Linked DNA regions of Homo sapiens: region 1 is linked to region 2. The links come from fine-mapping of genetic effects on plasma protein levels. A gene starts in region 2. The other region holds a variant in brackets. All regions are shown on one strand. Distances are from middle to middle.

The links. PIP is the posterior inclusion probability: the model's chance that the variant is causal. Protein levels are from antibody-based Olink assays in UK Biobank. Linkage for the fine-mapping came from a reference panel and not from the study's own genotypes, which makes the PIPs less certain.
Region 1: its variant is fine-mapped to the plasma level of the OLR1 protein (UK Biobank, PIP above 0.99).

What each region holds. Positions count from the first base shown.
Region 1 is chr12:10,138,190-10,141,118 of GRCh38, forward strand. No RefSeq gene overlaps it. Among named protein-coding and RNA genes, the nearest start is that of CLEC7A, 9.5 kb to the left of the region's middle. The variant C/A (reference allele first, on the strand shown) is at 1,347.
Region 2 is chr12:10,170,868-10,173,796 of GRCh38, forward strand. It overlaps OLR1 (oxidized low density lipoprotein receptor 1), which reads right to left and starts at 1,265. Exons shown (of 6, transcript NM_002543.4): 1 at 1,135-1,265. The coding sequence starts at 1,210. It also overlaps a transcript of TMEM52B not described here.

The sequences.
Region 1 (2,929 bases), 33 kb before region 2:
TGGACATAGAAAACTTATAAATAGGCTATTTATGAGTTTATAAGTAAATTTCATATACAATAAATAAACAGCCTATTTATAAGTTTTCTATGTCCTCTTTTTTTAAAAAAGTGTTATTTCTTCTCCTCCCTCCTTTTCTTCTGACCATTTCAATACGATATTACACTTACTTCTTTTTCAAGAGTACAATCAGAGAAAAATTCAATTAAATGAATTTTAGAATTAATCCTGAAACCAAGTTTTGGTATTTTTAAACTTATCATTTACTTGAATTTTGAATTGTCTTTTTTCGGAGGGATGGAATCTCACTCTTCTGCCCAGGCTGGAGTGCAGTGGCGCCATCTTGGCTCACCACAAACTCTGCCTCCCGGGTTCAAGCGATTCTCCTTCGTCAGCCTCCCTAGTAGCTGGGAAAAGGAGTCCTGGGGTTCAGTGAGATAAAATGGAAGAAGCAAGAACAAGGCAGTTGACCAAGGACACTGAGTCCCAAATTGGCCATTTTCATCTTGACTGCAGGAGATAGTTTCAGGAGACTCTTGAGCAATGGCATGGAGGTAAAATCTACCCTCGAAATAGACAGTTCCTGTCGTGGGTACAAATGGAGAAACCTTGGAAGAGAAGAAAAAGCATCTCCAAATGTGGGAGTCAAGAAAAAAAATGGCATAGGAAGCAAAATTCAGCTGTGTATGTTTATTTGTTTGCTTTAGGTTACCTGTGGGTCATCCCTCTTTATTTTACCCATAGCGGCTCTGTGTTCCATTGCATTCACTTTTGTTACTTTATTGGACATCCATGTTTCAGTTCTGTATCCTATAACTCAGCATCATCTTTAGTAGAAAAATACAGCAGAATGTGATGCAGGACAGGCCAAACAGGAAGGTCTCTGGACTGTCCCAATATTGATTCAACCAGAGCATCTCTGATGTTGCTTTTTTGATAGGTGGAAATTTTATATACAATTTCATTTAGAAAAAAAGCAATTGAGCAATGAAAATATTTGGAAGCTAGTCACCTGACAAATTCCATTCACTTTTTAAAAGAGGGGTAACAGGCCGGGCACAGTGGCTCACACCTGTAATCCCAGCACTTTCGGAGGCCGAGGCGGGCAGATCACTTGAGGCCAGGTGTTCAAGACCAGCCTGGCCAACATGGCAAAACCCCATCTCTACTAAAAATACAAAAATTAGCAGGGCATGGTGGTACAGGCCCGTAATCCCAGCTGCTCGGGAGGTTGAAGCATGAATCCTTTGAATCCGGGAGGCAGAGGAGGCTGCAGTGAGCTGAGATCCTGACACTACACTCCAGCCTGGGCAACAGAGTAAGACTCTGTCTAAAAAAGCAAACAA[C/A]AAAAAAAAAAGGTGGACACAGTGGCTCACACCTATAATCTAAGCACTTTGGGAAGTCTAGGTGGGTGGATAACCTGAGGTCAGGAGTTCGAGACCAGCCTGGCCAACATGGTAAAACCCCATCTCTACTGAAAATACAAAAATTAGCCAGGAATGGTGGCACGCCCCTGTAATCCCAGCTACTCGGGAGGCTGAGGTGAGAGAATTGCTTGAACACGGGAGGCAGAGATTGCACAATTGCACTCCAGCCTGGGCAACAGAGCGAGACCTCACCTCGAAACAAAATAAATAAATAAATAAATAAAAGAAACAGCTCAATATAGGTGAATTAAATTACATAAGAAGGAAAAAACTTCAAGTTACTTGTAGAGCTTGGAATTTCAGAGTCTACGTTCTACCCAGTAAATGCAGCATGTGGCATTGCTGCTTCTGACTCTGTCACTGATGGACTGTATGACTTTAGATATATTGTTTAATTTTCTATGCTTGCTTCTTCACCAGTAAAATGATAATGGGTCTTAAATCTCTGTTGGGATCCTTGTATGGCAAATAAGGTAAGTACAGAAAAACTGATAAAAATAGATTCCTTGTGGTGTTTGAGCTCAGCTAAGCCAGCATGAGTTAACCAAAATGATGTGGCAAAATCAGCAGGCATGAATGAGGTGACGGTGCCATCTGCTGCTTCGTTTTAGGAATTTCAAGGTAAGTTAGAGGAATTTAATCTATTTTATTCATTTGCAAGTAAAACTGAAAAATTTCTGCAGGCTAGACCTGTCTCATAATAAAAATGGCACTTTCATTCTGCTAAAAGGCATCTATGGTTCTTCATTCCTAAGGAATTATCATCATTAGGAGTTAGCTTCTATTAAGATCACCTGTTAGAGTTCAATAATTACCATGTACATTTATTTTTAATTTTAAATTTCTGCCACCATCAGTTCCTAGAAAGAAGGGAACATATCTTGCTCAGTACCAACTCCCAGTGCCTAGAGTGATGCACTGACTACATTAAATGGATGAATAAGATCATATAGCTAGCTATTTTTAATTTGTTTATTTTCTTCCTCCATACCACACTGTAGGCACCATGAGAACAGGTTCTAAGTATATTCATTACTGTCAACCCTGTTAGCACTAAAGAAAGAAGGTATTCACTAGAGCGTTGATAAATAAATGAATTAATTAATGAATAAACCAAAAATGAGAAAAAAACAATTCTAATCCATATATCTTTGTAAAAATAAGAGTGAAGGGGAAATCAAAATATCTGAAGTTGTTATTTTTTATCTAACTTACTGAAGTATATATTCAGCCTTTTAAAAATTACACAGCTGGTCAGGTGCAGTGCCTAACACCTGTAATCCCAGCACTTTGGGTGGCCCATGTGGGTTGATTGCTTGAGGCCAGGAGTTCGAGACCAGCCTGGCCAACATGGTGAAACCCTATCTCTACTAAAAATACAGAAATTAGCTGACATGGTGGTACATGCCTGTAGTCCCAGCTACTCGGGAAGCTGAGGCACAAGAATAGCTGGAACCCAGGAGGCGGAGGTTTCAGTGAACCAAGATCGTGCCACTGCATTC
Region 2 (2,929 bases):
TCTATAGATTCTCTTTGTCCTGTGTCCTTGGTAGGCAGAGACCATTAATCCAACTGCTGCCCCTACTAGTGATTTTCCAATCATAAACCAATCCGATTCTTTGCAGTAGGTACCGATCTAACCAAGATTCTGAAAGAAAAATCAATCTCATGATTATTGTAAAATTCAGACCCTCAATATTTACTACACAAATAATGAATGAGTAAAGAAACGAATGACTATTGTTCACTTCTGGTTTTACCTATAAATATCAGCAGTTTTTATAGCAATTTAGTTCATTGGCTCAAATGTTAAATCACTCCATGCTCACACTTATGTTCTCTATTGAGAGAAATTTCTGTTTTGTTTTTGGAAATGTAATTTGGAATTTCTTTATCCAAATTTCTGACAATACTTGTCTCTCTTTCTCTCCTTATATTCTGTTCATTTTCCTCAGAACAGATATAGAATAAAAGGCAATTTACCCAGATTGTCTGTGGAATTGGGATTATGAATTAATTTATAGCTATGCAATTTAATTACTGTATGGGTCAAACAGAACTTACAATTTTTCAAAGCAGTAGTACACAACAAAATGTAACTTATGCTAAACTATACTGAATATCATTTACTTTGCCTGCATAATTCATGAGGTACTTCAGGTTTTTGTAGTGCCTGAAGGACTCTTACAGAAATTATCGTTATATACACCAGATAAATTTGGTTCCCGAGCCCTCCGATGTATAGAATTCTGGATAAATGGGAGTTTGTGGTACAGTCCTAGCTCTACCACTTATTAGCTCCGTGAAACTGGATGATGTTGTTAGTCCTCCTGATGCCCAGTTAGCTCTCTGTAAAAGGGAGATAGTAATAGTACCAATCTCAAAATGTTATTGCGAAGATTCTGAGAAATAATACTCTGAAAGTGAATAACATATAGAATAACCTGTAGTAAATACTCAGTATAAATTGTTATAAATAAGTTGTCATCATCATCATCATTATAGCCTTCTTGTTTTTCTTTTAAGTAAATGGTATTAATTCTATTTTCCCATACTTGGGTGTTTAGCTTTCTAATCCCATTCTTCGGTGAATTTACATTTTGGGGCTAACACTGGGATTCTTTCCCTGTACACATTTTCCCATCCCTAGTACCTTTAGCTTTTTTTCCATTTGACTTCTCATCAGGCTGGTCCTTCACAGTCTGGATCTTTAGGTCATCAAAAGTCATTTCCAAATTCAAGCTAAGAATGAGAGAGTGAAGCAGTCACGAACTTCAACAAACTAAAAATATGTGAGCTTCTGCAGAAGTATTTAAATAGCTACTGTTATCTAATAGAAGAATGACTCAATCATTGGTAGGAGGAAGGAGAGGCTTTGCTTCATATTGGGAAGTTCGCTGACGCAAATTCTTGAGTTATGTGTATTGCAGGTGGAGAAAGTGGTGATTCTGAAGGTGTTTCAGGATATTTCGCTAAGTAATTTATGAAAGGGAAAACTATTTTTCATGAGCATCAGAGGAGAGATATTGTACCCACTCTTCAGAGACAGAAACTGAAATTCAAAGAGAGTAAGTCACACTACATTTGTAAAAAATGTGCCAGAATTATGGGCCAAAATATTTGATTCCAATGTTTGTTTGCTAATTTCATTAGCAGACTGTTTCTATATGGTGTCTTTTACGAATCAGATATATTCTCTTTTGATTTTCACTGTTTTATCTGGCAATGGATCTAAGAATTTTGGGGTGAATCACATATGGCTCCCATTTCCAGCGATGGTGTGTCCTGGGTGATTTTAGAATTTATCTGGGGCTACTAGTTCATGCAGTGCCAGTGTAACGTAGCAGCAGAGAGCACTTTGAATGCAGAAAGAGCTAGTTTCAGTACTTTCCTTTAGTCTACAATCTTGGGAAATCTTAATACTTTGAATCTATGTCTTTGTCTGGAAATTAGGGATAATGTCTACCTGATAACATTGTTATAGGAATTCAAATGACATGTCTGGAAATTAGGGATAATGTCTACCTGATAACATTGTTATAGGAATTCAAATGACATGCTGGGTAAAAATAATAAGCTTTTTTACACTAGGTTTGTGAAAAATGTCACGTTGCTATAGGAATTCAAATGACACGCTGGTTAAAAATGACAAGCTTTGTACTTGGAGCATAATAAGAAGCCAATAAATAATAATTATTAGTATAGTACTAATATTCAGCACAGTTGAATTACCCATCAAATAATGTATTTCAGTAAAATCCATGATTGACTCATGTCACAAAGACGCTTACATGAGAGACCCATAAGTATGTCTATATGTATTTACTGATAGAATACTTTTCTATTTTCCCTTGACAACCTCCTAACCAGATATATATCTATTAGAGATGTCTTCTGAAGGAAGTATTTATAAGCAAAATGATATGATATCTGGCATTTACTTTAAATTACTCCAGGAAAAAAAAGTGCAAAGAAAAGAATACACAAAGGAAGAATGGAAAAATAAATACATAAATAAAACATATAGGAAACTATTAGGAAAAATTACCAATATTGACAGCCTAATTAGGATTCCATTTCCCTCCTCCTCCCTGTTTCCTATATTCCTTTTATTATGTGCAGAGTATTTGAGAACAAATTGAAAAAGTTGGCCAGGTGCAGTGGCTCATGCCTGTAATCTCAGCACTTTGGGAAGCTGAGGGGGGGGGTGGATCACTGAGGTCAGGAGTTCGAGACCAGCCTGGCCAACCTGTTGAAACCCTGTCACCACTAAAAATACAAAAGTTAGCTGGGCCTGGTTGCAAGCCTATAATCCCAGCTATTTGGGAGGTGGAAAATGAAAATGCTTTTCATTTTCAGTGAGCTGAGATTGTGCCACTGTACTCCAGCCTGGGCAACAGAGCGAGACTCCCTTTAAAAAAAAAAAAAAAAAAGAATTAAAAAATACT